Linked DNA regions of Homo sapiens: all the other regions are linked to region 3. The links come from fine-mapping of genetic effects on gene expression. A gene starts in region 3. Each other region holds a variant in brackets. All regions are shown on one strand. Distances are from middle to middle. Region 1 overlaps CPNE5 (copine 5). Region 2 has its middle 39 kb from the start of RAB44. Region 3 holds the start of CDKN1A (cyclin dependent kinase inhibitor 1A). Region 4 overlaps RAB44 (RAB44, member RAS oncogene family). Region 5 overlaps CPNE5 (copine 5).

Evidence for each region.
Region 1: its variant is fine-mapped to the expression of CDKN1A in whole blood (TOPMed, PIP above 0.99).
Region 2: its variant is fine-mapped to the expression of CDKN1A in whole blood (INTERVAL, PIP 0.93).
Region 4: its variant is fine-mapped to the expression of CDKN1A in whole blood (TOPMed, PIP above 0.99).
Region 5: its variant is fine-mapped to the expression of CDKN1A in whole blood (TOPMed, PIP above 0.99).

Annotation. Positions count from the first base shown.
Region 1 is chr6:36,751,871-36,757,951 of GRCh38, forward strand. CPNE5 (copine 5) reads right to left here. Exons shown (of 21, transcript NM_020939.2): 13 at 4,375-4,428; 14 at 1,164-1,225. Among named protein-coding and RNA genes, the nearest start is that of RAB44, 57 kb to the left of the region's middle. RefSeq lists an enhancer at 3,492-4,691. The variant G/T (reference allele first, on the strand shown) is at 3,795.
Region 2 is chr6:36,734,113-36,740,193 of GRCh38, forward strand. It overlaps the pseudogene GPR166P. Among named protein-coding and RNA genes, the nearest start is that of RAB44, 39 kb to the left of the region's middle. RefSeq lists an enhancer at 1,148-1,649. The variant T/C (reference allele first, on the strand shown) is at 2,531.
Region 3 is chr6:36,675,238-36,681,108 of GRCh38, forward strand. CDKN1A (cyclin dependent kinase inhibitor 1A) reads left to right here and starts at 3,477. Exons shown (of 3, transcript NM_000389.5): 1 at 3,477-3,561. It overlaps DINOL (damage induced long noncoding RNA), which reads right to left and starts at 3,322. Exons shown (of 1, transcript NR_144384.1): 1 at 2,372-3,322. It also overlaps the pseudogene LAP3P2. RefSeq lists enhancers at 989-1,078, 1,129-1,198, 1,178-2,377, 3,570-3,759, 3,771-4,358 and silencers at 3,290-3,519, 5,090-5,479.
Region 4 is chr6:36,726,875-36,732,955 of GRCh38, forward strand. RAB44 (RAB44, member RAS oncogene family) reads left to right here. Exons shown (of 14, transcript NM_001257357.2): 11 at 703-817; 12 at 1,826-1,927; 13 at 3,799-3,875; 14 at 5,129-6,081. The coding sequence ends at 5,219. Among named protein-coding and RNA genes, the nearest start is that of RAB44, 32 kb to the left of the region's middle. The variant A/G (reference allele first, on the strand shown) is at 2,856.
Region 5 is chr6:36,743,547-36,749,627 of GRCh38, forward strand. It overlaps CPNE5 (copine 5), which reads right to left. Exons shown (of 21, transcript NM_020939.2): 15 at 4,675-4,721; 16 at 2,850-3,031; 17 at 1,842-1,969; 18 at 1,502-1,604; 19 at 722-779; 20 at 143-216. Among named protein-coding and RNA genes, the nearest start is that of RAB44, 49 kb to the left of the region's middle. RefSeq lists a silencer at 1,387-1,587. The variant C/T (reference allele first, on the strand shown) is at 3,335.

The sequences.
Region 1 (6,081 bases), 77 kb after region 3:
CAGGTGCTATGGACTGTAAGGGGTGGCTGATTAATGGGATTGAGAGGGAAGCAATTTTGATGGGGGAAGAGTGCAAAGGCGGGGTCTGGAGTCAGCCCAGAGGAGGGGCAGGTAAGAGCAGAGGAGCTCCTGAGTGACTGGAGGCAGGGTGTGTGCTCAGTGGGTAGGAGGAGAGCTTGCAGCCTTGAGACTGCAAGCTCAAGGCAGCAGGGAGTGTTGTCATGGGAAAGTGAGTGTGGCTTCCCAGGACCTGACTTCTCCCTCTGCCCTGGAGAACCAGGCAGCCAAGGGTCCACTTGGCTGGGATGAGCCTTTGGCAGTTGCTCCTGCCTGTCTCCTTTCCAGACAGGTGCAGTCACTCACCTGCGGGCTCTTGGCTGCCCACGCCCTGACCTGGCACCTGTCCTGGCAGGCAGCATGCTGGGCAGGCTCTACCCTTAGAGCCAGGCTCTTTCCGTGAGCTGCTGGCTGGGGCCTCCTGGCTCCCCCATCTGTCTGGGCCTAGACACTGTGCCTGGTGGTTCTTTCTGCTCCTTAAACTCATGTTTGACCACCTGCTGGCCCCAGGACCAATCCCTGGCTTATCCCCAATCCCGCTGCCCTTACAGGGCCCTAATAACAGTGAGCAGGTTAATCACTGTCCCCCTCCCCCAACCAGACAGATCAGAGGTGTCAGAAGCTCAGAGCTGTAAGGAACCTTAACACTTACCTATTCCGTTCTCTTTGTGTACAGAGGAGGAAACTGATACCCTGAGAGGAAAAATGACTCACCCAAAGGAACCCAGCAAATTAATGGCAAAGAGAGGCCTAGAGCCTGGGCCTCCTGACTCCTATTGCAGGGTTCTTTCTACATCCCCAAGCCCTTGGCTTTCTGTCACGGAGTCCCTACCAGCTCCAGGTCCTGTCTCTGCATGGAGACCTGACATGACCCAGGCCAGCCTCCTTGGCTCAGGAGTTCCCTCCAAGCTGCTTGGGATCTGGGGATGTGCAGGGCTCTGGATGAGTTGTCTCAGCCCAAACACCAGGGTTTGCTCAGAGCCCAGCACCACAGCCTTCAACCAGGGCTTTGAAGAGGCCAGGGTGGGGCCAGAGCCGGTCCTGTCGGTGTGTGGGGCCCTTTCCCTCTCCCCAAGGCCCATGAAATTGGCTGTATCTCTTCTCACCCTCCTTTGATGTAGTCAAGGAAGGTGCACTCTGACTCCACAGCAAAGGAAAGCAGGGTGACCTTCAAAACAAAAGGGAGCTTGGTCAGTGGGGAGCCTGGGGTCAGGGGAGATGGGTTATGATTCGAGAGCTGACATTGACAGAACACTCGGCATGTGCCAGTTTTGCATGCATGACTGCATGCACTGCCCACACCACCCCATGAAGTACTATTATTATCCCCACTTTATAGCCAAGGAAACTGAAACCCAAAGAGGTGGTGCAATGTGCCCAAGGACACTGCCAGGGCAGAGAAGGGATCTGAAACCAGGGTGTGTCTGACTTCAGAGCCTGCACTCTTGACCTTGACGGAAGGGTCCCATCTGTGTCAGTGGAACCGGGGTCCAAGCCAAGGGTGTTAGTTTCCTCTAAGTGGGCACTGGCTCTTCAGCCCCAGGGACCTAGGGTGGGGTGTGGAGGACAAGGGGGCCCTCCTGGCACAGGCCTAACAACCTGCCAATGCCGACCAGCTTCAGGCTTCCATGTGCCTAGAGCTATTAGTCCTGAAATGTGCCTCTTTGGACTGTGCTTATCTTAAATCTTACTGGTCCCATCTCATCCCTCTCAGACCCAAGATCCTGCCTCATAAGTAGCCCATCCTTTTCCCCAGAGGTAACTGACTACCCCAGGCCCCCTCCCCCAAGCAGAGGCCTTTTAACCTATGCCCTGGCAAAGTTAGCTTTGGCTTTGCCAAGACAGGCAGCTACCTGGCAGCTCATTATCATAACAATTTAGAATCAAGGAGACAAATGAAAGCCTGGCATCCTAGGCCAATTATATGAGACAAGATTAGGGCAGAGGACCTTTCACCTGTGTAAGAGAACGAACTCCTCTCTGGTAGTTTGGGAGCCCCCTATTCATGAAGATTCAGCTGTTTTTACAGGCTCATTGGGAGGGCCAGGTGAGAGCACCACCCTTACTTGGCAGTAAGACCCCCAGCTATTGTGGTTAAGGTATTAGGCACCTGGATGAACCACAGGCCTCCTTCCAAGTGTGGCAGCTCAGACTTACTAGGAACCACGGCAGTGGCTTCAACCCTGACTGATGACCATGAGATGCCCTGGGGGCTCTTAGATCATCCTGCAGCCCAGACCCATTATAGCCGAGTTTCCGGGGCTACATGAATGTTTCAGAGATCTTCTTTTTTTTTTTTTTTTTTAGCTCTTCACGTAAGTCTAATCTGCAGACACAGTTGACCACTCCCCATTCCAACCCCCAGGATGAAGCAATGCCCTAACTGCCCTGACCATATGGGTTCACCCAGGGGCTCGCAGGGTGAAAGCAGACTTTCCCCTATTCAAAGGGTAGTGTCCCTAGACCAGAGCGTCAGCATCACCTCGATGCCAGGTAGAAATGCAGAAATGCAGATTCTTGGCATTTTCACAAGATCCCCAGGGGATTCTGCACACCATAAGTAAGGGATGAAAAGCACTAAACACAGATTCCTGGGCCTCCTAAAGTGGAATCCCAGGGAACTGGCCTGGGCGTCTGTATTTCAGCAAGCTTTCTGCATCCCGGGTGATTTTTCGCGATGAAGATGGGGAAATGCTGGAGTAAAAGGAAAGTCAAGAGACCTGGGCCTAGGCCCGCTCTGTCTCCAGCTCACTGTGTGACCTGGGACAAATCGCATGCCCTCTCTAGGCCACAGTTTCTTCGTCTCTAAAGTAAGAAGGCTGGATGAGATCAGTGGTTTTTGAACCTTTTTATTCCCAGCTGGGGAAGGTGCTGTCTTCCCTAGGGGAATTTAGGAAGGCGTGGGAGAATTTTGGGGGTTCTCATAATGACTGGGGCTCTACTGGTAGCTATGGGCAGCAGCCAGGGGTGCTAAACATCCTGTGAGATGAAGAATTTTCCTGCCCAAATGCTGACAGCCTCTCCACTAAGAAACACCGCAGCCTTGGACAAAGGAAATATGACTCCAAGCCCCAGTCTGTGAAGCAGTTACAATCAAAGAAGTGGTGTTCAGTCCCCTTTGAATGAGCAGAGTAATTTTACAGTTCACAAGCCTGCATCTCCCATGTGTCTGTCACAGCTGCCCTGTGCAGTGGCAAGGTGGGGATGATTTATTAGTCCTACTTTACAGACGGAGAAAATGAGGCTTCTCAGAGGAACCCCAGAGCTCCTGAAAACCTCTTCTAGGTCTGGAGATACAGTCTGCCTGACTCAAATGACCAGGCTTGGCTGCACTAGCCATGGGCCTCTAGAGTGAGGAAGGAACACAGAGAGGATGAATCTGGGTGTGTTTGCACTGCAGAGAAAGTGGCTTGTTCTAGAAATGCACTGTGAGCTCCACCTCAGGGCCTTTGCATGTGCTGTTCTCTACAGCAGGAATGCTGGAATTCCCTTTCCCCAGTATCCTCAATACTTCCTCCATTGCCTGTCCCTTTACCCTTTATACTTTTTCCATAGCTCTCATAATCAACTGACACACACAGGCATGTGTGTGTGTGTGTGTGTGTTTTTTTTTTTTCTCTGTCTCCTCCCACTAGAATATAAGCACCAGGGATTTGGGTCTGTCTTGTTTCCAGCTGTATCTGATGTGCCTAGAATAGTGCCTGGCACACAGTAGCACTCAGTAAGTATTTGCTGAA[G/T]AAGCGTATGAATGTCCTCAAGACCAGCCCCGAGAAGCCACTAGGCCGGCGTGTCATCCCAGGAAGGTCACGGTTAAGCAGGGGCAGCGCCCGTAGCAGCTGCCAGCTCTGGAGTGAGATGTCATGTTGAGTCCCATCTCTACCACTTTCTAGCTGTGTGACCTTGGCTGAGTCACTTTCCTGCTTGCAGCCTTGGTTTCCTCTTTCATGACTAGGGGATGATAATATCTGCCTCTCAGGGCAACAACCTGTGAAAAGCACCAACGTGGGGAATTTCCCAGGGTAGGGGCCCAATAAATACGACTTCTCTTCCTCTTCCTTCCTGCAGGAAGTCCCGTGGATGTCTCTGCGATTCCTCATGCTAGATACAGCCAGCGCCTGTTGTGTGGTCTGCAAGTCAACTCTCTCCCCTGGCTGTTGCTCCATCTGCCCCACCCCTCCCCACCCCATCTCTCTTGGATGTCTGATTCCCACGCTCAGCCCCTGCACACACACAGACGCACGGGCCTCCCTGATACCAGACCTAGCTTGGGGCTCAGAATGTCTACACCCGGCTGCAGAGACCGGGGTGGCTACTCACTGTGCCAGAATTCACGTATTTCTTTTTCTTCATTTTCTTTTTCGGGTTTACCACCTGCAGGAAAAACCAGTTACCAGGTAAGGCATGCTTCCAGGCAGTCAGGGTGAGTCTTGAGGGCTTCCAACCACCCATGGGTGTGGTCCAAGCCCAGCCCCATTAGAGTGTGGGGTGTGAAGACCACGGGGCCAGGGGAGAAGGGTTTAAGGAGGATTTGTGGGAGACTGGTATTGAGTCTGGGTTACACAACTGGGTTCTCCCATCAGACCCAGGGTCCCACGATCAACCGGGAATATTTATTTAACCTTCTCTCCCACTGTTCCCCGGAACACACGCACCCTCCACCCAGTATAGCCAAAGAAGTCTTGATGTTGCAAAGCGGCCCTATCTGTACCTGTCCCTTGTGTTGGTTGAGGCTGCTCCCCTCACCAAAAATGCACCCCCTTCCTCTCTCAGCCAATTCCAATCTCCCCTGTTCCTCCTTTGGGACCCAGCCCAAGGGCTGCCCAGGGCCTCTGAGGCTCCCCTCTCCATCACCATCCCTCTTACTTGGCAGCAAGAACCTCTTTAGCTATTCTTTGAGTGTAAGCTTTAACTTCCAAACCAGACCTGTGTCAGATAAATCATGGGGCTAGGCTCAGAGTAGGTGCTCAGAGAAGGCTTGTTGGTGGCTAACTCAGCGGTCTCAACCAGGGGCGATTTTACCCCCAGGAACGTTTGGTAACATCTGGAGACGGTTTTGGTTTCCACAACTGAGGGGGTGAGTAGAGGCCAGGCATGCTGCTAAACATCCTACAGTACACAAGACAGCCTCCCACGGCAGGGAGTGATGCAGTCCCAAATCCCAGTAGTGCCAAGGCCAAGACTGGGCAAAGTGACGAGAGCCACCCAGCCCTGAGGCCCCCCACGAGACTTCCGCACTTACTGTATTTGTATTCTCATTTGACCCTCGCCAGTTTTTCTTTGTTTTGTTTTTAATAAGGGAAGTCTAGGCACAACTTTTCCCTAATGTCCCATCAAACAAAGCCAGGCAATTTTCATACCTCCTGTGCTGCCTGTTGGTTTCTGGTGAACTCATTTCCCCTTTCCCTGTCTTTGTTCCCACAGAGGCCGTCAGCTGATCTTTACCGTGGTCTCTTCTGTCTGGGTGAGTATTGCTATCTACTTCCAGCAAGAAGGAAACTAAAGCACAGCGACACCAGGTGATTTGCCTAAAGTCACACAGCCATCTGGGTAGTGACAGGATTAGAAACCAGGTTTCCTGCCCCCGGGCCAGTGGTGCATACATTGGTGCCACCTTGATAACAGATACAAACAGATCTCTTTGACATACATTTATGGGGTGGGTGGAGACATATATTGCTTCTCCCCTGGAATCATCTATCACCTATGTTGGAGAGAGAAGATATGTCCTCAGGGCAAAAAGTGACAAGGGCCATGGAACAAGGGGGATCACAGAAGTGTCAGGGGAGTTAGAGGAAGGAAAGACCACTCTAGGTGAGAGTGTCAGCAAAGCCTCTCTGGAGCAGGAAGTCTTGAAGGCAGACTTAGAGGCACAGGAAGGCTCTGGGCACGGAGAGATGGATGTCAGAGGAGGTTCTGTGGGAGAAATGAATAGAACCCAGGCCCAGTTTGATGGCAGAACCACAGGGTGGAAGAGTAAGCTGGGCTGGTTGGAGGAGAGCCTAGAATGCCCAGTGAAAAATGTCT
Region 2 (6,081 bases), 59 kb after region 3:
ATCTCTTGACCTCATAATCCACCCGCCTCGGCCTCCCAGAGTGCTGGGATTACAGGCATGAGCCACCGCGCCCGGCCCTCCAGCTGATTCTTTTACTGGGCCCTTCACTGATCCTTTTTACCCCAATGTCTTCTCCCATCTCAGGTCCCCTCCCGCAGCCCACAAGCCTGCCCCTGAACTGAGCAGTTTCTCAGTGTGCTCAGAGAGAGAGAGAGAGAGAGAGAGAGAGAGAGAGAGAGAGAGAGAGAGAGAGAGAGAGAGAGGGGTGTGGGCTGCAGTGAGTGATGCTGGCCCTGGATAAGGATGGGAAACAGGTCCTATAGTTGCTAATGGCTCTTTCTCTGGGGCCCAGGGACCTGGCAGGCACCAACATCTCTGTCCTGTAGGCCAGGGAATTAATGAGGCAGGTAGGCAGGGTGTGATTCCTGGGAGAGGCAGTAGAGCAGACAGCCCCTGTCGTTTGGGGGCCCGGTACGGGAGTGGCCCCCAGGCCTCCCCGTCTCAGCTCAGCTCTGTTGTGGCCTCAGGCAACTCAGGTTCGCAGGAGGTGGAGTTCTGGGAGGAACTCCACACTGCCCAGCACCCTCTTTTGGCTTTCTTGGGCCGGATCCACCTGCTGGGCAGGGCACAGCTGTGCAAGGACCACCAGCCTTTCCTGCTGTCAAAGGGCTCACAAGCCAGGGAACAGGACCCAGGAACCTCAGAGCAGCACAAAGTAGGCAACGACAGCAGCAGGAGAAACTTGAGGTAGACTTCAGAGTGAACTTCCAGGCAAGTGGTGAGTTCTTGGGGCATGTCAGCCAAGGAGGCTCTGATTTAGGCTTAGCCAGAGTCTGATTAAGAAAAGGAGGGTGGGACTGGGCTGATGGGACTCAGGCTGTGGAGTGAGAAGGGAGGGCATGGGGAGAGAAGGAAGGCTGGGCAGGAGCTCTAAGAGAAGAGGGCTTTTGGGAGCTGAGGGTGAGCAGGGGCAGAATGACATCCCTCCTTTACCCAGTGCCTACCGTATGCCAGGCACTGTTCTGAGCACCTAGCTCGTGTTAATTCATTTAGCCCTCACACCATCAGGCGTGCTCCCCCATCTTACGGAAAAGGAAAGTACTGCATAGGGAGGCTGAGTAACTTCCCCGTAGTCACGTAGCAAGTAAGTGCTGGAGCCAGTGTTAAACGCAAACGCCGATACCCATAGACTTAACTCTGAAGTTATGCAACTGCTTACAGGAAGATGCGGATGCTTCGGGGAAGGAGGGGCCAGGTCCCTGAAGCCTCGTATTGCTCCCTGCCAATTCCTCTCCAGTAATAGTCCATGTCATTGGTGGGTGTGGACCAGGAAAAAGAGACGAAAAGGCAGTGATAAATGCCAGGAAAGTGGCTGGATGACAGCCTTCATCCAGGACAGGTCCTTCATTTCCCCTCCTCCTGCCGTCTCTGAAGCTGGTGGGACCCGGGAAGGTGGCCGACATCAGAATTCACAGAGGCCCCCTCTCCAGTCTCCCCTCAGCTGCCCTCAGGCACGTTGCTGCCCTGGGGCCCCAGAGACGAAGCCAAGTTCCCCAGGCTGGGGCTCTGCAGGAGGGACTCAGAGACTCCTTCAAACCTGGCTTTGAGCCCGCAGGAGAAGAGTGTCTCCAGCCCCCACCCCGGTGTGGTAGAAAAGGGGAGGGCAACTCCAGTAAGGACTCCTCTGCTATGTCTTGTTTGCTGCTGGATTCCGGGAACCTGGTCCAGAGCAAATGCTCAGGAAATATGTACTGAGTTAGCAGGCAAGCCTCCAGCTAAAGCTCCCGGGCCCTGGCCTGGCCTGCAGGGCGGCCAATGGTGACATCAGCCACTGGGCTGGCTCTAGGATGTCTACATCCCATCTTGTAGCCAGAGTCCTCCCAATCGGGGACTCCCCCTGCCCTTGACATGTGGGACAGAGTGGGGGTGAGAAGAAAGGTCTGACCACTGGGTGCAGACTCCCCCACTCTGCCAGGGGCCTGCACAGCATAACCTAGAGGGCAATGATTCCCAGGCTGGTCTGCCCTTAGAATTATTTGGGATCTTTCAAAAATGCTAAAGCCCAGACCAACTATGTCATGTCTCTGGGGGTGGGACCCAGGCTTCTGTATTTGTGAAACTCCTCAGGTGATCCCAAAGTGCAGAGAAGCTTGGGAACCACTGGAAGGGGCTTCACACCTTCTCAAAGCCCTTTCAGACCCACTTTTCCATTTGAACCTCAAATTAAACCTGCTTGTTTCACAGGGCAGGGTTTTTGTTTTGTCAAAAAATAGATACATATGTGTGTGTGTATGTATGCACATATATATTTATCAGATTATGAAAACAATGTGTACTCCCTGCAGAAATTTTAGAAATAAATTTTAAAGAAGAAAATGAAAATTACCCTAGTCTTACCACTTATGATAGTTACTATTGACATCTGTTTTATTTTATTTCCTTGCTTTCTTACAGCTGAGGAAACTGAGGTAGAGAAACATTAAGTAACTCTCCCAGGGGCCAGGTGCGGTGGCGCCTGTAATCCCAGCAC[T/C]TTGGGAGGCCGAGGCATGAGAATCGCTTGAACCTAGGAGGCGGAGGTTGCAGTGAGTCAAGATCTCACTCCAGCCTGGGTGATAGAGTGAGATTCTGTTTCTAAAAAAATAAATAAATAAATAAATCCCAGGGTACTGGAGCTAGCAAGCAGCAGAGGCAGGATTTGAACCCAGGGTACTAATGGAGTCCATCCCATGGGGTTGTCATGAGGTCTGCAGGGGCTAATGTGTGCCAAGGACAGGCCTTATCTGGGCCCACTACATGCAGGGGGTCTGTGAAAAAAGGAGGCTTAGCAGGAATGGGGAAGGCGGCCTTTGGGGCTGGCTGGTTTCTACTTTGTCCTTGTGTGTTTGAAACAGAATGGAGCCCAATGCTACGTTCACCACGCAGCTCACGGCCACACCTGAGCGACTGCTCCGACTCATCTCTGCTGGGGTCTGTGGCCTCATCCTGCTGGTGGGGCTGTCAGCTAATGGGCTCATGCTGCTGGTGGTGGGCCGGGGCCCGGGCTCCCCCCACCCGCTCCACTCCCTGACCCACAGCCTCATGATGAACATCACGCCATCTGACCTGCTCTTCCTGGCCTGCGTGGTGCCTGTGCTGCTGCTGAGCTTCCTGCAGCACAACTGGTGGCTGGGCCCTGCCATCTGCACCATTAGCCAGGCCACCAACACAGCCACCACGTTCTGCATCTTCTATAGCATGGTGGCCACAGCTCTCCTGCGCCATGTGGCTGTGGCCCGGCCTGACCTGGCCTTCCCAGCCGGCTGGGGCACCCTCTTGCTGCTCTGTGGGGCCATGTGGGCCCTGGGCCTTACAGAATCCCTGCCCAACTGGCTGTTCCAGAGGGTGGCAGTGGAGGAGGAGACAGCGGGGGCTCCCAAGACCCAGGCCTGCCTCTTGCTCCTGAGCCCTGCTGGGACCTCCTGCTACATCAGCCTGCTGGGAGCCCTGGCCTTCCTGCCATGCACGCTGGGGCTGGGCTGCTCTTTCAGCCACGTGGGCTGGCTCCTGTGGACCCAGCCCCAAGGTCCCATGGGAGAGAGCATCCAGGAGCATTAAGAGAACATAGGGCTCAGCCTTGTGGTGCTGGTGGTTTTTGTGCTGATGTGGGGGCCCTGCTCCATGCTGGGTTATGTGGCAGCCATGGGCTACCTGCCTGCCACACCGGCTGCTTTTGTGGCCTCCAGCCTCTGCACCATCCTGGCCTACTCCAATTGCGCTGTCAGCCCTATCCTCTGCTTCTACCTCTCCCGCCCCTTCCAGGCAGGACTCAGGGACCTCTTCTGCAGGCCGATGATGGCCAGGCATCCCAGAGGTGTGGGAGTGGCAGCCTCAGTGGTGGCGACTGTCCAGCCTGGCCGTGACAGGGCCTCAGGAGGCCTGTGGGGCCTGGCGGGGGTCTAAGAGTATAGGCTGATGGATGCGCTGAGATTCAAGGGAGATGGGAAGACCCTTAGGGACCTGACAGCCCATCCCCTCTATTTTACCAGTGGAGAGACTGAGACCCAGAGGGCAGATGGCCCAAACAAGGTCACAAAGCAACTAAATGGCTCAGCTAGAGCTCACATCTCTAGGTAACCAGATGGATCCTCCCACTCCACTTTCAGGCTCAGATCTCTGTAGGCTCCACTGCTCTCTAATTGTGTGATCTTGAGCCTCTGTGTCTCAGTGTTCTCATCTGGAAAATGGGATGATGACAGTACATACCTTCTTCACAGGGTTGTTATGAAGATGAATTTGCTAAACACATGTAAAGTGCTTAGAAGGATGCTTAGTAAGTGCATATGCGTGCTGGTCATTGCTACTATTATTATTTTATTTGTATTAATTCAGGGGTATTTGAGGTGAGTGGACAAGAGGAGGACAGAGGGGCTTCCAAAGGCAGAGAAGTGGGTGGAGAATGATCTGGGGGGTAACAGCCTAGGGTCCTTAATCCTGAAGGCCAGGAGATTGAGTAGGGGGAGCAGAGGGCCAGCCACAGCCTGGGGGGTGAGCTCAGAGGCAGGACAGCCTTTCCCCTCTCTGCCCACCCCTCCAGCTCTGTTCCACACACCCCTCAGTCCAATAGGGGGACAAAAATCCAGTCAACCATGCAGCCATGACTCCGGGACTGTGAATGTCTGAAGCCCTCCTTTCTTCCCTGTGGCTTCTCTTCCTGAAGCACCTGGGGCAGGGATCCCTTTCAGAGCCCTTTTCTTCTCTCCAGAGCCCAATTTGAGGTTTCCATTTTTCCCACCCTCAGTGCCCTCCCTCTGGCCTGCTCAGGGCAGGCTTCAGGCTTCCATGTTGGCCTGGAAACCCGGGAGATTGTCTCTACTGAAATTCCCAAGACAGCACGTTCTGCTTGGTGACGGTGTTACCAGCAAAACACACATACACACACTGACTCTGTGATACAAAGCTTGAGAAACGTTGGGTTGAACCAAATCATACTGGTCCCTTTGCTGTAGGACTTACCAGAGCCTTGAATACCCAAAAGGCCACTGAGACTCTCGAGAGGGACGCACAGCAGGCAGGTTCCCAAACTCCATGCCAGAGAGCCAGTATTCTGTGGAACACACCTTGGGAAAGAATCCACAAGATGCTACGGTGTTGGGCACAGCAAAGATGCTCTTGGTGTCCCGTCCCGCCCCCGGCAGTGGCTCTGTGCCTCAGTCCCCCTGCCAGGCAAGCACCCTCTCCTGACACTTTCCCACGGCCCCTGTGGTGAGGTGACATGAGCTGCTGGTTATGGGAACTTCCCTCCTTCCAAGCTGTGACCCCACCCTGTTCCCACTCAAAGCATATCAGAATGTAAGTCACAGGGGCATGTAATTATAGGGACAGCCGTGAATCAGCACCCATTTACTATAAAATCATAAGAAGTAAACAAGTCCCAAACTTTGGTATAATTAGTTCCAAATTTCTTGTGATGTTCAGGGTGGGAATGGCTGCCTGGAGGGCTAATCTGGGAACAAACTTGCCCAGAGAAGGGAGAAATCCCCTTTTGCTATGATCCTGGTCCCTGATGGCCACAGGGATTTATATGTGAAGAGGAACAAGAGGAAAACAGTGTTTCTTGGGCACCTAAAATGCCATGGGTCCTGGGCGCATGTCACATATGTCACATGCAACCTTATGTACTCGTCACTCTGGCCACACGATGACCCTGCAAGGATGGGGGTGGTGGTGACGACCCCATTGCACAGGGGATGCCAGACTCCTCCTCATGGCACAGTGACTCTGGTGCCCACAGATTACCCAGCCCCTCCTGATGGCTTGGCATCAGTACCCCATGGTTGTAGTATTTCCTCGCTCACTGCCCCAGAGCAGGGGCACCCCTGAGGGTGCAATTCTGTGTGTGCATCTCCAGCATGGTCTCCAATACGTGAGTGGGGCCTGGCACTCATGTTTGGTAAATACTTGTTGAGAGATGAGTGAATGAGTGATCAAATGCAATAAAGCAATCCGTTTATTTTAGAGGAAATTCTGATGATGTTACTCACTTCTCTCACCTCCTCAATGGCTTCCCGTTTCACTCAGTAAATGCCAAAGGCCTCATCATGG
Region 3 (5,871 bases):
GTTCTTACTTCGTTTCAGTCAAGACAATGCTTAGTTCAGATACTCAAAAATGTCTTCACTCTATCTTAAATTGGACAGTTGAAGTTAAAAGGTTTTTGAATGAATGGATGAAAATATTTTAAAGGAGGCAATTTATATTTAAAAATGTAGAACACAATGAAATTTTTATGCCTTGATTTTTTTTTCATTTTACACAAAGATTTATATATTTTTTTTTTGAGACGGAGTCTCACTCTGTCACCCAGGCTGGAGTGCAGGTGGCATGATCTCAGCTCACTGCAACCTCCGCCTCCTAGGTTCAAGCGATTCTCCCACCTCAGCCACCTGAATACCTGGGACTACAGGTGCCCACCACCATGCCCGGCTGATTTTTGTATTTTTAATGGAGACGGGGTTTCACCATATTGGCCAGGCTGGTCTCAAAACTCCTGACCCTGTGATCTGCCCGCCTCGGCCTCCCAAAGTGCTGGGATTACAGGCGTAAGCCACCACGCCCGGCCAGTATATATTTTTAATTGAGAAGCAAAATTGTACTTCAGATTTGTGATGCTAGGAACATGAGCAAACTGAAAATTACTAACCACTTGTCAGAAACAATAAATCCAACTTTTTGTGCAAAAAAAAAAATACAAATATTAGCTGGGCATGGTGGTGCATGCCTGTAATCCCAGCTACTCGGGAGGCTGAGGCAGAATTGCTTGAACCTGGGAGGCGGAGACTGCAGTGAGCTGAGATTGTGCCACTGCTGACTTTGTCTCAAAAAACAAAACAAAACAAAAAAACAAAATGAAAACAAAAAGCCAGGGCTGCCTCTGCTCAATAATGTTCTATCTTTGTTCCGCCTCTTCTCTGGGGTCTCACTTCTTGGGAGCCTGTGTGAAGGTGAATTCCTCTGAAAGCTGACTGCCCCTATTTGGGACTCCCCAGTCTCTTTCTGAGAAATGGTGACATTGTTCCCAGCACTTCCTCTCCCTTCCTAGGCAGCTTCTGCAGCCACCACTGAGCCTTCCTCACATCCTCCTTCTTCAGGCTTGGGCTTTCCACCTTTCACCATTCCCCTACCCCATGCTGCTCCACCGCACTCTGGGGAGGGGGCTGGACTGGGCACTCTTGTCCCCCAGGCTGAGCCTCCCTCCATCCCTATGCTGCCTGCTTCCCAGGAACATGCTTGGGCAGCAGGCTGTGGCTCTGATTGGCTTTCTGGCCGTCAGGAACATGTCCCAACATGTTGAGCTCTGGCATAGAAGAGGCTGGTGGCTATTTTGTCCTTGGGCTGCCTGTTTTCAGGTGAGGAAGGGGATGGTAGGAGACAGGAGACCTCTAAAGACCCCAGGTAAACCTTAGCCTGTTACTCTGAACAGGGTATGTGATCTGCCAGCAGATCCTTGCGACAGGGCTGGGATCTGATGCATGTGTGCTTGTGTGAGTGTGTGCTGGGAGTCAGATTCTGTGTGTGACTTTTAACAGCCTGCTCCCTTGCCTTTTTCAGGGCAGAAGTCCTCCCTTAGAGTGTGTCTGGGTACACATTCAAGTGCATGGTTGCAAACTTTTTTTTTTAAAGCACTGAATAGTACTAGACACTTAGTAGGTACTTAAGAAATATTGAATGTCGTGGTGGTGGTGAGCTAGAAGTTATAAAAAAAATTCTTTCCCAAAAACAACAACAAAAAGAATTATTTCATTGTGAAGCTCAGTACCACAAAAATTTAAATAATTCATTACAAGCCTTTATTAAAAAAAATTTTCTCCCCAAAGTAAACAGACAGACAATGTCTAGTCTATTTGAAATGCCTGAAAGCAGAGGGGCTTCAAGGCAGTGGGAGAAGGTGCCTGTCCTCTGCTGGACATTTGACAACCAGCCCTTTGGATGGTTTGGATGTATAGGAGCGAAGGTGCAGACAGCAGTGGGGCTTAGAGTGGGGTCCTGAGGCTGTGCCGTGGCCTTTCTGGGGTTTAGCCACAATCCTGGCCTGACTCCAGGGCGAGGCAGGCCAAGGGGGTCTGCTACTGTGTCCTCCCACCCCTACCTGGGCTCCCATCCCCACAGCAGAGGAGAAAGAAGCCTGTCCTCCCCGAGGTCAGCTGCGTTAGAGGAAGAAGACTGGGCATGTCTGGGCAGAGATTTCCAGACTCTGAGCAGCCTGAGATGTCAGTAATTGTAGCTGCTCCAAGCCTGGGTTCTGTTTTTTAGTGGGATTTCTGTTCAGATGAACAATCCATCCTCTGCAATTTTTTAAAAGCAAAACTGCAAATGTTTCAGGCACAGAAAGGAGGCAAAGGTGAAGTCCAGGGGAGGTCAGGGGTGTGAGGTAGATGGGAGCGGATAGACACATCACTCATTTCTGTGTCTGTCAGAAGAACCAGTAGACACTTCCAGAATTGTCCTTTATTTATGTCATCTCCATAAACCATCTGCAAATGAGGGTTATTTGGCATTTTTGTCATTTTGGAGCCACAGAAATAAAGGATGACAAGCAGAGAGCCCCGGGCAGGAGGCAAAAGTCCTGTGTTCCAACTATAGTCATTTCTTTGCTGCATGATCTGAGTTAGGTCACCAGACTTCTCTGAGCCCCAGTTTCCCCAGCAGTGTATACGGGCTATGTGGGGAGTATTCAGGAGACAGACAACTCACTCGTCAAATCCTCCCCTTCCTGGCCAACAAAGCTGCTGCAACCACAGGGATTTCTTCTGTTCAGGTGAGTGTAGGGTGTAGGGAGATTGGTTCAATGTCCAATTCTTCTGTTTCCCTGGAGATCAGGTTGCCCTTTTTTGGTAGTCTCTCCAATTCCCTCCTTCCCGGAAGCATGTGACAATCAACAACTTTGTATACTTAAGTTCAGTGGACCTCAATTTCCTCATCTGTGAAATAAACGGGACTGAAAAATCATTCTGGCCTCAAGATGCTTTGTTGGGGTGTCTAGGTGCTCCAGGTGCTTCTGGGAGAGGTGACCTAGTGAGGGATCAGTGGGAATAGAGGTGATATTGTGGGGCTTTTCTGGAAATTGCAGAGAGGTGCATCGTTTTTATAATTTATGAATTTTTATGTATTAATGTCATCCTCCTGATCTTTTCAGCTGCATTGGGTAAATCCTTGCCTGCCAGAGTGGGTCAGCGGTGAGCCAGAAAGGGGGCTCATTCTAACAGTGCTGTGTCCTCCTGGAGAGTGCCAACTCATTCTCCAAGTAAAAAAAGCCAGATTTGTGGCTCACTTCGTGGGGAAATGTGTCCAGCGCACCAACGCAGGCGAGGGACTGGGGGAGGAGGGAAGTGCCCTCCTGCAGCACGCGAGGTTCCGGGACCGGCTGGCCTGCTGGAACTCGGCCAGGCTCAGCTGGCTCGGCGCTGGGCAGCCAGGAGCCTGGGCCCCGGGGAGGGCGGTCCCGGGCGGCGCGGTGGGCCGAGCGCGGGTCCCGCCTCCTTGAGGCGGGCCCGGGCGGGGCGGTTGTATATCAGGGCCGCGCTGAGCTGCGCCAGCTGAGGTGTGAGCAGCTGCCGAAGTCAGTTCCTTGTGGAGCCGGAGCTGGGCGCGGATTCGCCGAGGCACCGAGGCACTCAGAGGAGGTGAGAGAGCGGCGGCAGACAACAGGGGACCCCGGGCCGGCGGCCCAGAGCCGAGCCAAGCGTGCCCGCGTGTGTCCCTGCGTGTCCGCGAGGATGCGTGTTCGCGGGTGTGTGCTGCGTTCACAGGTGTTTCTGCGGCAGGTGAATGACGGGCGTGGGTCGGTGCGCGCTCGGCTTGCGCACACGGTGTCTCTAAGTGCGCGGGTGACGAGAGTCGGGATGTGCCGGAGACCCCGGGGCGGAGAGCGGGATTACAAGTACAGGAATCCCTGGTCACGCTCCCCGCCCCTGGAAACCCAGCTGGGGCGAGGGAGGGCGTGGACGGGACCGTTCTGGGAGCTCGCCTTTGGCTGCGGTTGGCTCCAGGCCCCAGGCGCAGTTTGCTCGCGGCGTGGGGATGAAGTCCGTGTCCCTGGAGGGGCCCAGGAAGGGCGAGGAAAGCGGAGTGGAGTAAGTTCGTCTAGGATCGGTCCCGGGTGGCTCTGGGATCCAATCTGCGCCGCCCTGGCCCAGGTCCCAGGTTCAGGTCCTTTACGCCACTGTGTCCACCACCTGGCTGAGCGCTGAGGTCAGCGCGGGCTGTTTCCTGGCCCTTGGGAATGTGCCAGGACCCGTCCCCTAAGGACTAGCGAGGAGGTGACTCACTGTGACAAGGAGACCCCAGGGAACGGACTGTATGAGGTCAGAACCCCGCCCGGGATGGGGTACAGCGGGACTCCAGAAGCCCTCTCCCCTGCCCCTTCGCGGTCTCCGTCCTCCCATCGGCACAGTGACCTATTTGGCTGGAACAGTTTGTTCCCAAGGAAGCCGGGCACTGGAGGTCCGGGACACCGCGTCGGGTCCCCGCTCCGCGGCGCGCTGTAGGGGTCGGGGAGTCACGGCCCTGCTCTGGGCGGGCTCTAACCAGCCTGTCAGTCGGGGAAGGGCAAGGGTCTCCTCTACCTCTTTCCCACCGCGGCCGGGAGAATCGCGGCCCAGCCTGTCCTCGGGTCGGGGCGCTGGACTCCGGGGCGGGAGCGGAGCCCACGCCTGGATGGGAGGCGGGGAGGGTTCATGTCTTTGAGGGGTGGGGGGTCTGGGGGGCACGACGCTGCTCAGGGCCTCTATCAGCTGCCTCGGGGGCTCAGGGCTTCCCGACCTAGCCCAGATTCCCTCTCCGAAAGCTACAGGGCTGAGCGGAGCAGGGGGGCGAGTCGCCCCCTGGGGCGCCGCCGCCTGGCGCGGACCACAGCGCGTCCTCTCCGTCCCAAACCCCTGGGGGACACTTGCGCCCTCTTCGTGAGGAAAAGCATCTTGGAGCTGGGTTAGGAACTTGGGGCGCCCAGGCAGCTTCCCCTCTCCTTGCCTCCCTCCACGTCGCGTTTCTGGGAGGACTTGCGAGCGGTTTTGTTTTCGTTGCTCCCGTCTATTTTTATTTTCCAGGGATCTGACTCATCCCGTGCTTTGGGCGTGGAGATAAGGTGGAGGGGCCGGCTCCCGGCGCGCGCGCGCGTGCGTGTCTGCGCGGGCGTGTGTGTGTGTGTGTGTGTGTGTGTGTGTGTGTGTGTCTGTGTCAGAGACGGCACAAGAGCGCGCGGTTTCCCAACAGCGGCGGGAGTTTCGGAAGCCTGGCCGGCTCAGCGTGACGTGTTCGCGGCCCCCCGGTCCCCTCCCATTCTCCCCCTCCCCACCCCAGGGTGACGCGCAGCCGGAGTGGAAGCAGTTTTGGCGGGCGAGCAGCGCCTTGCAGGAAACTGACTCATCACTACTCCCTCCAGCGGTCCGAGGCTCTGCCCACGCACCTCCCACTCCGCGCGTGATTTCCTGGAGGCCGGCGCCCCCTCCCGGCCCTGGCGGGAATAGCACACAGGCTTTCCCGCGGAGTGGGGCTGGCCGGCGCGAACCGCCGCGGCTACTCCTGGGCTCATCCGAGATCAACCCCTATGCCATTACCACCCCTTCAAAGGAGCACTCCTTAGGTTCAACAGTATTCACTGAGCTCTTACTGGAAATTAAAATATGGCTGAAGTCTAAGGCAGGAAGGCCAATAAAGGAGGCTATTTTTAATTGTTTCTAAAACAAGGGTTTGCGTTTCTGAGTTTTCTTTGGGCTGAAAGTTATTATGAGCATGAGAGCAGATTTTGATGGGGGAGGAGAGGCCTATGAGAGCCATAAGAGAAGGAGGGGTGGTAGAAGAGGAGAGGGTGCCTGCCTAGATCCTAGTCCTGTCTTGAACTCCCGAGAGCCAGGGAATATCCAGCACCTTGATGAAGCCCTAGGCGGGCGCCTCCTCCTTGTGCCTATGATGTATTGAGACCCAGAATGTCCATT
Region 4 (6,081 bases), 52 kb after region 3:
ACTGCAATCTCCACCTCCAGGGCTTAAGTGATTCTTGTGCCTCAGCCTCCTGAGGAGCTGGGACTACAGACACATACAACCACATCCAGCTAATTTTTGTATTTTTAGTAGACACAGGGTTTCACCATGTTGGCCAGGCCGATCTGGAACTCCTGACCGCAAGTGATCCTCCTGCCTCAGCCTCCCAAAGTGCTGGGATTACAGGCGTGAGCCACCGTGCCCAGCCCGATAGGGAAATTTCTCCAAGACATCCTGTTAACTGGAAAAAAACAAAATGCAGAACACTGAATATTAATGAGTATGATGAATGTTTTACACTGTATTTGTATAAAATAGAGGGGGAAAGATGTATGTGTATGGGTGTATATATGTGTGTGTATATATATGTATATACGTAAAATGCCTCTGGAAAAATATTTAAGAAACTGATAACCCTGGTTGCCTCTGGGGAGGGGGACTGGGTGGCTCCAGGATGGGGCAGAAGGAAGGAGACTTTTCATTGAGTTCTCCTTGAGACCTTTTGAAATTTGAGCCATGAGAACTGTTACCTAGTCAACAATAACTACACTGTACGAAGAAAAGCATACGGACATGCTCTGTGGGAAGCAATTAGAAGTAGGATAGGTTACTTCTCCCACTTTGCAGAGGCCAGGGCCTGGGGTCTGGATGCCTGGTGTGGCCTCATGCAGACTCTCTGGGCAGGTACCACAGTATGACGCGACAGCTGCTCCGCAAGGCTGACGGGGTGGTGCTCATGTACGACATCACCTCCCAGGAGAGCTTTGCCCACGTGCGCTACTGGCTAGACTGTCTCCAGGTGAGCAGATGGCTGCTGGGGTTGGCCCCAGTCCCTCCAGTCAAGAGGGATCTTATATCCTGCCCACTCCCTCTTTTCTCCCAGGATTACAAATGACATGACAGACATATGGGTGACACCACCCACTGAGGGCATGTGGTTGGATGAGCTGGGAATGCAGTAGTACAAAGAAACCACAACCACATAGTACAGACTTCAAACCAAACTACTTCCTTTATCCTGTGAACATTCTCTTCCTACATATGGCAGCTGTTTGTAATGTCTTCTTCTTACACTTGAGGCTAATGTAGTTCTTGTGCCATTCCATGTGGTAATTCCTCTGTTCACACATCTCTAGTTTTTCCCCTGCTTACTTCCTCAAAGCATATATACTGAAATTCTGCAGTGTGTACTAGCACAGCAGAGGGGTGTGAAGTTAGCCATGTTGCCTTCTCTCTGGAAGTTTCTAGTTTAGCAAAAGAAGCAGGATAAGGTAATGTGTGAAGAGGGGAGCTGAGCACTGGGGTCTGACAGGACCTACATTTGAATCCCACCCACCCGAACTCTGTGACTTTGGACAAGTGAATTGAGTTCTCTGAACTTCAATTTCTGGAATTCTCTCATAGGGGAGTTGTGACAATTAATTGATAGAATTGCTTTCAGCACAGCACCTGGTGTATAGCAATCACTCACTAATCAGAAACTATTATTATTATTCATGAGACAATTGGGAAAATGTATAATCAAGTGCTGGACTGTTCAGAACAGGCAGGAAGAGAGGACATGGGCAGGAACAACCCAGGAAGGCTTCCTGGGGGAGGTGTTCTTAAGGTTGGCCTTGGAAAATAAGTGAGATGTTTATCAGCAGAGAGGAAGGATGGGGGAAAGGGTCCAGGTGAGAAGGTTATGGAGTGGATGTGGCCTGGGAGGGGGAACATGCGGGGGACACAGTTCAGCTTCTAGGAAGGCAAATGTGCCAGGAGCCTGGCACACAGTGGGTGTGGCTGACAGAACATGTTCTGTGTGCAGGATGCAGGGTCGGATGGGGTGGTCATCCTTCTCCTGGGAAACAAGATGGACTGTGAGGAGGAACGGCAAGTGTCCGTGGAAGCTGGGCAGCAACTGGCCCAGGTAAGCACTTGGGCATCAGCCCGTCTCTGTGCGTGGACTGGGCAGACACCTCCCTGGCAGGTGGTGGATAGGCATCACCTGACCTGGGCAGCCGAGAAGAACCCGTGGCCCATTCCTGCCCCTGCCCCAACCAAAGGCCTGTTCAGAGTGGACAGCAGCCTAGCCACCTCTGCCTCCCACACAGCCCTGGCCTCTGGAGATGCGCTTTAAGCCCAAACCCAAGGCTGGAGTGGCGGGCGTGACACTGAACCTCACTGTTGAATTAGCACATTCCCACACCATGTCCCCACCTACATAAGAAATAGCTTCAGAGTAAAAAGGTTTTGAAAGCTTTGCTTAAAATTCCCAATCAAATTTTAATTTTATCTCTGGTCTCTAATTAACGTGCTGCCTTCTAAGTTCTCCTATTTTAAGACTCAAATTCTCCCTTGGGATGATTACATCAAAAGCCCCACTGCCAGACAGTGAACACTATCTATTCATGAATGGCATTTAACCACATTCCAGAAAATCTGGAGAGTAATAAAAATAGAGGGAAAAATCACTCCTCGCCCCACCTCTCACACAACCCCTCTTGGCATCTTCCTACTGTATTTCCTTCCTGTTTCTCTTCCCACTTCCCGTAAATTGTGAGGTCATCATTGTGGCTCCTGCTGGAAGGGAATTTTTTTTCTTTCTTTCTTTCTTTTTTTTTTTTTTGAGATGGAATCTTGCTCTGTCACCCAGGCTGGAGTGCAGTGGCACGATCTTGGCTCATTGCAACCTCCGACTCCCGGGTTCAAGCGATTCTCCCACCTCAGCCTCCTTAGTAGCTGGGATTACAGGCATGTGCCACCACGCCCGGCTAATTTTTGTATTTTTAGTAGAGACGGGGTTTCACCATGTTGGCCAGGCTGATCTGGAACTCCTGACCTCAAGGGATCTGCCT[A/G]CCTCGGGCTCCCAAAGTGCTGGGATTACAGGCGTGAGCCACCATGCTCGGCCTTTTTCTTAAAAGTAGTAACTCATCCCTTTGACATAGTAATTTATCCTCTAGCAATTTATCGTAAGGGAAGACTCAGAAGTAATAATCCCTAAAGGAACACCTAATGGATACCCATGTATAACGTACAATCGAACAGGTTTATATGAGGGTTTTCAAATATTATTTATAAGAACAAACATTTGGCAGCAATTGGTGGTTAAACTGTGGATGTTCATGTGAGAGGTTAGTATTTGCCATTAAGAATCCTGTCTTGGAAAAATATTTAAGGGTGTGGGGGAAATGCTTACAATATAATAGAAAATCATATAAGCAGCTACAAATCTAGATATAGGTTAGGTTGAAACATATGAAATTGCTGATATTTGACTGGAGCTTGCCAAAAATAGCAATTTCGTGTGGTTTAACCTAACTGTACAGGACAGTTAGCCCCCGCCCCGTAAAAGGGTTATATAAAACAGAATGGCAATATCTACCCAAACACTAACAGCAGTGGTTTAGATATTGAGCTGGTACTGTCTTATACTATATCTTCCAATATTCCCCCAATGAAATATTTCTGAAATTAAAAAACATAACTAACATTTATAAAATGTCTCCAGGGGCATTTCTCCAAGTTGGGATGCAGGCTTCCCATGCCACTCCGAAGGCTGTGAAATGTCTCTTCAATGCATTCCTTGACACCTTGGCCAGCCGGGGTGAAGGGACAGTGGGCAAAGGGCTCCAGGCAGGGACCGTGGCCCACGCTGAGATGGGGCTGTCTTGCTCGCCACTGAGGTCAGCTTAGGGATGCATTGGGACTCTGATGGCCGGGACTTTAGTGGCGGGGTATGGCCTGGCCTTTCAGTTGTCTCTCCCAAGGCACATATGTCCCTCCCTGTCTGGCCTGCAGGAACTGGGGGTCTATTTTGGGGAGTGCAGTGCCGCCTTGGGTCACAACATCCTGGAGCCTGTAGTAAACCTGGCCAGGTAAGTGCTGCCCGCCCCCCGCCGCCCCCACCCCCCCCCTTGCAGAATCCTCTGGGACAGCTCCGGCCCCACTCTTGACTCCCAGGTGGGACAGGAAGGCCCATTCTGAGGAAATGGGTCAGGGAAGCACCTAGTTAAAGACCTGGGCTCACCAGTCTGAGGGGAGAGAGAGCCCTGCACTGAGAGTCTCCTGACTCCAGCTCTGCCCTTCCCGTTCGCTGAATCACTCCCCACAGGCACTTAGGCTCTCTGAGCCTCAGTTTTTTCATTTGCAAAGAGGGCTGAGAAAAGGAGTGTCTCTCTTCTGCTCCCAAACTTCCAGTAGCTTCCATTAAAATCCAAATGCTTTGCAATGGCCTGCAGCATCTCTAGTGCCATCTCCCCCACCCCTACACACACACACATTCACTCACACCCACACACACTCACACTCTTACACACACTCACACTCACACACACACACTTGCCAAGTTCCAGCCACTCAGAGACTCCCTCCCTGATCACCCACCTGCCATCACTATTTTGGATCACAGCCCCTGTTTGTGTCCTTCATGGCCCTTCTTGACACGACACATATTAATGATATATGCATTTATCTGTTTTCTTGTTGTCCAGGAAGGCAGGGCCATGTCTGTTTTGTTCAGCCCCTCTCCCCATACCTGGGACCTAGGTGCTCCATAAATGAATAAAATGAGTAAGGCATGAGGGGAGCTAGATCAGATGAGCACCATCTGGCACACAGTAAATATATCACGAAGAAATGAATGGACTTCTTTTGCTTCCCCAGCCTCCAAGCTCTCTCGGCACTGAGCCGCGCCATGGCCCTCTGCTTGGGATGCACCTCCCCCACCCTTTCTGCTGGCATACCTTGTCCATGGCTCAGTTCGGTCACCATCTCCTTCCTCCCCAGATCCCTCCAGGACCTGGTGTGAAGTCCCTGTGTGCCTCCCCATCATTCCCGGGCTGCAGTCACCCCTTTTCCTGTCTGTCTCTCTCACTACTCAAGGGAGGGAATGGTGGCTTCTTTGTCATAGTCAGAGTCCTGCACAGTGCCTGGCACATAGTAGGCCAGAAAGAGAAGGTCAAAGTCTCAGTGACTCAATTCTTCGGGTCTCATGTGGAATGCAGGGCAGGGGCAGAGCTGTTGTGGGGGTTGTGGGTGCGGCCTCCCACCCCCCAGCTGCACCCATGGGCCCATCCGTGCTGCCCGTAGGAGGTGAGAGAGAGGCCTGATGCCTGGCACTGTCACATAGGTCACTCAGGATGCAAGAAGAAGGCCTGAAGGACTCGCTGGTGAAGGTGGCCCCCAAGAGGCCGCCCAAGAGATTCGGCTGTTGCTCCTGATCACCTGTCCTGTCCTGGGTAGGATGGACACCCATGGGGTTTCCTGTCCCTCAGCTCCTGTCCTTTGTTCCTGGACAGCAACGACACAGAGGACCAGCTTGGAGGTTCAGGAAAACCCTTCTCAACTCAGGACTCGGATCCCAGAGCAGGGCCGCATCACCTCTGCCTTTCACACTCCAAAGGAGGGCTTTGCTGAGTGAACAAGGCTTGAGGGGCAGGGGTATGGCAAAACTCTCCAAACAAAGAAAGTCTAGAAAAACGACTTAAGGAAAATACACCAAAATATTGGCCGCACATCTGTGGGTGTAAAATTTTAGGGAGAATGTGGGGGGGGGGTGTTACTTTCCATTTTACACATATTTGTATTTTCAGATTTTCAACAATAACAGTATTCAATACATAATCAGAAAAAAGAGATGTGGAGGAGGAGGAGAGAAACTTCCCAAGGAGCTCCCTTGGGTGCTGCTGGCTCCTAATTAGTGTAACCTGTTAATCACATGTTGCTCGGTGTTAGAGCGGTCCCTCTGTGCTCTGCTTGGCAGGGCGCTGTTGGCCTGGTCTCCCTCGCTATTTCTATTTGCAAGCATGGGCTTTCTTCCCAGCAGAATCTGGTTCCTGGGAAGAGTAATGTTCCAAAGGCCTCTGATATGCCTCGATGCCCTCCTGTCTTCCAGAGCCCCAACCTCACTCCCTTTCCCCACCATACAAAACACACCTCCCAGGGGTCACATTTGGGGGTCCCGCCCCCTGCTCCAATGCCATGGTGTCCCCAAGCACAGGGCTTTGGCCTGAGTTGTCAGTCTCTGGATGCATTTGAGGGGCAGCTAGGGTGTGGCTGGGGGGTCCAAGCAGCTGGGGAGCC
Region 5 (6,081 bases), 68 kb after region 3:
CGGTGGTGGCTGGGCCACTTTGGGGCTCCCAGTGCCTCCCTTCTGGGCCCTTCACCAGGGAAGCCCCCAAAGGGGGTGTGAGGTCCGCCTGGCTAGAGGGGCTCTTGAATTTCCCATGGGGCAGGCAAGGCCTGGGCTTCACCTGGACGATGTCGCGTTCAGCCAGCTTCCCCCGGGAGGAGATCCGCACGTCGTCGCCATCCAGCTCCACCATGGCTGTGAGGGGAGGAGTGTCATGGGGCGGGGTGAGATTAACGGTGGACCCCTGGCCCTAGCAGGAGAGTGGACTTGTCCTTTCATCCCAGGCCAATCCAGGGCCGAGACCACTGGCCCATGCCCCGTGTTAGAGATGAGGAAACTGAGGCCAGGGGCCAGGAGGAGCCCGATCAGGTGAGCCTCTGACTTTGAGCCCAGTGCTTTGGTTCACCACCCTCCCCAGACTCCCAGGGCTGGAGGAGAAAGAAGTGACTTGGGGCCTCCTCCCCACAGCCTTGGGATGTGGGTGTGGGTGCACACCCAGACCTGACACACCCTTCCCTGAGCAAACAAATGCGTCCCACACCCTGCACACTCACCCAGACACACACGCCCAGGCGGGAGCTCTCACTCTTTTGGGAGGGGTCATTCCCAGGGGACCACAGCCTCTGGGGAAACATCTGGGGTGGGGGCAGGGTTGCGTGGCTAGGGAAGGAAAGGAGGGGAAGGCAGCAGCTGGACTCACCGTCGAACTCTGCCTGGCCCACGCCGACGATAATGATGGACATGGGGAGCTTGGCAGCCTGGGAGACAGCATGGGGGGCAGGGAAAGGTTGGACCCAATTGGGACCCAGTTAAAAGGAAGGAGAAATCAGGGGTAGGACAGGAAGGGGTGGGCAGGAAAGAAATGGGAGAGTGAACATGGAGAGACAGAGAAACACAGAAAAGGGGGTAGGGAGAGGGAGGGCACTCAGAGATAAAGAGCAAAGGAAACCAGGCTGCGCCTGGAGGAGAGAGGGAGGGTGGCAGGGGGAATGGGTCATAGGTCTGCTTTGGTGAGTCACCCCCATCCCCTCTTACAGGGAGACCACCGGCTTGGGGAGCCATGTTCCTGAGCTTCCCCAACTCTGAGCCTCCCCTCCCACTCCTTTGACCTGGCCAGGCTGGCCTGGGAAAGGGGGAAGCGGTCCTAGAGATGGGTTAATGAGGGAGTCATTGGGGTCTGGAGGGAGTAGACCAGAGCGTGACTAAGAGGTGGGAACAGAGCTCACCAGCCAGATCTCTCATGATCTGGGCACCCCTTCCACCCGCTAGAATCCACTATCCAGCACCGGACTCTGCAGCCAGAGGCCAGAAGGTGGATGAGGGCAGTGGGGCCCAGTGAGGCAGGGAAATGAGAAGCCACGCCCAAGTCATCTCCAAGCATTTCCCTAAGGTCAAGGAGGTAGGCACATCCCCAGGGTTCCCCTAACGGGGAGGAAGACACTCCTCAAACCGCCTCCCCCACCGCACACTCCTTGCTTACGTTGACAATGGCCTCCTTGGTCTGCGCCATGTCCGAGATGACCCCATCAGTAATGATGAGCAGCACCGAGTACTGGGAGCCATCCTGCACGGCCGCTGCATTCCTGGGTGGGGCAGGTGTGGGCTCAGGTCTGTCTGCGGGACCTCTGGGCATGTTCCCCCCTAAACAAGGACCCTGAACACTTTGGAGGGTGACAGCTCTTGGGGGAATCTCTTCAGGGTCAGGGCTCCCTGAAAGGCAAGTGCGTGGGAAGAGAAACCCCCTCCCACCACCCAGAGGCAGAGCTGGTGTGGAAACAGAGGCCTTGTGAGTGCCTGGAGGCGGTGGCAGCGGCACTCACCTGGCCACGTGGGTGACCACGGGGGCAAAGTTGGTGGGGCCGTACAGCTGCACAGTGCGCAGGCTGCGGTGGTAGGCCTCCAGGATGCCGTCGATGCCACAGCATGAGGGGTTCTCCTGGTTGCCATTCTGGGGGACAGAGGGCAGGGAGGCTGAGCCCAGGAAGGAAGGACAGGGGTGCACGATGTGTGGGAACTGAGTCCAGGTGGGGAGGCCAGCAGGCCTGGGCTCCCCCAGGTCTTCTCTGGTGTGGGGTGGCGGGGCAGGGGAGGGAGCTCCCAGGGCCCATCCTGAAGCAGTGCATGCTTCAGGTGAGCTGGGTCCAAACCTGCTCCTTACCCGGCTCCCTGTACCTGTTCAGAGATGCCCCAAGATCCCTGGCTGCTTCCCTCAGGGAACCTTGGGTAAATCCACTCTGCCCTAAAATGACTGCTGGGTCTCAGCAACTCAGGAAGGACCTGTGGCTGATCTGTCCACGTGCACACTGGGCCCAGCACAGCACCTTGCACCCTCAGGCATGGGAGGGACGTCTGCTGTGCCTGAGTGTCCCCAGCTCGTGGGAGCCAGGGAAAGGGGTGGCCTGTGCAATCATCTCCACAGGGCCCGGGATGCCCAGATGACGCCATGCTCCACATCACCCTGGAGATCCACGTCATCCCATCTCAGCACTGACTCAGGGATACCCAACCCACACCACCTTGTTCACTTTTCTGGGGCCCTGAGGGATGGGTCAGCCACAGCTCGCCTCCACCTGCACCTGCGTCTTGTCAGGAACAAGGAAGCCAGGGCCAGCTGTGGGCAGGCAGCTTCAGACATGGAGGGGCAGCATCTGTGATCAGGGAAGGGAGTGGATTTCTGGAGCCCCCCTACACACAGCAGGCAGTCTACCTCCACTGAGGCTGAGCCTTAAGTCCCCGGGCTCAGAGGAAGGGAAACGTCCCCCCACCCCCAGCTTGTCACCTCACCCCCAGCCTGATCAGTCCTCTCTCCCACCAGCGGGACCACCTACCAGTGGGAACTCGTGGGACACTCTGCCATCCGGGGGCAGCTTGGCCCCGAAGCCCAGGGCAGGGAACATCTTGTCACTGTCGTAGTGCTGGATGATCTCTCCGACGGCAGTCAGCGCCAGCGCGTAGGCGTTCAGCTGGTAGGGGCTCATGTAGTGCAGGGATGTGGACTGTGAGGGGTTCCCTGTAACACAGGACATGGGAGCCTTTGACCATCTGGACCCTCCAAGTCACCCCGGGTTCAGAATGAAGAAGGGGGTGTCCAAGGGCACCCCTAACTTTTATTAATTCTTGACTCCTCTCTTTCTCTCATACCCCATGTTAAATCCTTCAGCAAAACAGATCTAGAATCCCTCCTCCGCCTCTCCTCCTCCCCATACCACCACCCTCTTGCTTATAGGATGCAGCAGTCTCCTAACTGATCTCCCACTTCCTTCTGCCCCTGTGCCTCCAGCCCATATCCAGCACAGCAGTGACTGAGCCTATC[C/T]GCCTCAGAGAGATCATGCCTCTCCTCTGCCCAAAACGCTCAATGCCTCCACCTCCCCCAAAATGAAACCCAAAGTCCTCACAAGAGCCCGCAAGCACTCATGATCTGGCCTCCAGGTCATCTCCTACCCTCCTCCCTGTCACTCGCCAGTCCCAGCCTCACCAGCCCCTCGCCATTCCCACCTCAGGACCTTGGTGATGGCTGTTCCCTCTACCTGGGACACTCTTCCCCAGATGTCCACTCCCTGGCCCGCTCCCTGGCCTCTTCAGGTCTCTGCTCAAGTGTCACCTCCTCAGTGTGATCTTTTCCAAGCAGCCTATTAAAAATTACAGCCTCCCCCAATCCTTCCTATCCTTCTTCCTGGCTTGATTTCCCCCCCCAGAGCCCTCTTCGCTGCCAATATAGTCTGTATTTAACTTATTTGTTCATTGATGGGAGGTAGTACAGCACAGATTGCCAAGGTACCAATCCTGTCTACCTCCTGCTAGTTATGTGATCTTGGGTAAGTTCCTTAACCTTAGCCTTAGTCTCTTCACCTGTAAAATCAGAGCAATAATAGTTCCTACTTCATAGGATTGATGTGAATATTACACAGATGCTATCGATATTATGATAACTATCCTCAGTGTTATTATTACTAAGGCCCCTTCCAGCTCTGATAGCCCAGTGCTCTATGATGCTAGGACTTACAGCTATAAGAGGAGCTCCTGACACCTGTAGAGGGCAAGACCTGGGCATTTTTGATTGGTGCAAAAATTAGCACTGAGCACCCCTAATAGAGCCCAGAGCCCAAGGGAGGTTGTGATGTTTCTAATCATGTAAAGTTGGGCACTGTTATTGCTCCTAGTGACTCAGCCACAGGCTGACACTGGAGAAATTGGGAGGAGGTAAGGAAGCCAGGGCAGCCCCAGCCAGGTAAGGACTGGGGTCCCTGGGCTGGATCCTGCCTCCCTGAACACCACAGAGCTCAGCCTTGGCTCTGATTCTCCACTCCAGCCTGTGGGTTGGACTGCACAGAGGAGCTGGGATTTGATCCCGGGGGGAAACATCTCCAGGGCCCTCCATAGGCCCAGAGTACACACAATCCCATTCCCCCAGGGAGACTGGGTGTTCCTCAAGGACAAGGCTGTGGCTCAGAGCCCAGATTTATGTCAATGGTCCAACCTGGGGATACTACTGCCATCTTGGTTGTATCTTTGGTCCTCCAGACCTAGGTACATCCTCTTTGGTGAGGAAGAGGCCAGAGAGTATGAGGGTCATGGTCCCAGCCAGGGCCAGATGCCACAGCCCTTAAAAGCTCTCTCCTCCCACCCTGCTCCTCTACCCATCCCCCAACTCACCATTGGAGGCAGTGAAATCAATGGCCACAGTGAAGTTGATCTGGGTCCTAGAAGAGGGAGAACAGCAGGGGAGTCACCTGGAGGGAGGCAGGGCTGTGGGAGGGGGGACAGTGCTAGACATTGGCTACCACCCTGGCTCTGCTGCTTGCCAGGTGTGTGGCCTTGGTGAAGTCATTCATCTCTTTCTAGTTCTGGAGAGCTGAGATAGTAATGCCAGCTATGCCCCCCTTACAGGATTAATGAGCATCAGAAGAGTTATGCAGTAGGAAAGCTCTTTGAAGATGATTGTGTTCTGTGTGGGCATGTGGCTATGGTCACTTATTTCCTCCACAAACCCTACCCCCTGGGCCCACCTGTGTAGGCTGGGTGAGGTTGGGTCTCATTGGATTGCTGACTCAAATTTGGAGTGAGATTCAGGACGAAAACTCATTTGACAAAAAAGAGAGTCAAATAGACATTATGCATCTCCTAAAGAAAGAATAGAATACCACCCATGAAGTTGTCTTACCAAAAAATTGAACCTGATTCTGATTGAGGCTCCAGAGCTGTCTAGTTAGTTACAGGAAATACAAGGGACAGAGGAACACATTAAATGACACCACAGGAGATGCAGCCAGCAAAATCCAGTCTTTGGGAAACTCTGTAGAAGCACTACCAGAGACAGCAGCAGCACCATCTCCTGGGAATATGCTGGGCCTCTCAGACTCTATCTAGCTCTCCTGAATCTTTTTTTGGAAAAGAGGTCTCGCTCTGTCACCCAGGCTGAAATGCAGTGGCGTGATCACAGCTCACTTCAGCCTCAACCTCCTGGGCTCAAGCAGTTTTCCCACCTCAGCCTCCTAAATAGCTGGGACCACAGGCACGCACCACCACACCTGGCTTTTTTTTTTCTTTTTGCAGAGATGGGGTCTCATTATATTGGCCAACCTGGTCTTGAACTCCTGGGCAAAAGTAATCCTCCTGCCTCAGCCTCCCAAAGTGCTGGGATTACAGGTGTGAGCCACCACATCTGGCTGAATATTAGATTCTCTTGGTGGGGTACAGGAATCTGTGTTAGCAAGCCATTCAGGTGCTTGGGGGGAATGAATAGATGAAAAGAGAATTAAGAGACCAACCCACCAATCACAGCCTATGGCTCTTGCCTGGATTTCTGACTCAAACAAACCAATTTTAAAACTATAAGATAATTGGGGAGATGTAAACATTTACTAGATATTTAGTATTAAGGAATTGTTAATTTTTTAGGTGTGGTTATGGTATTGTGGTTATGTTTGATAAAGAGAGAGTCCTTATGTTTTAGAAAGACATCCTAAAGCATTTGGGGATAAAATATGATGGCTGGGATTTGCTTCAAATTGGATATTGGGAGCCTGAGGTGGGAGGATTGATTGACACTAGGAGTTCAAG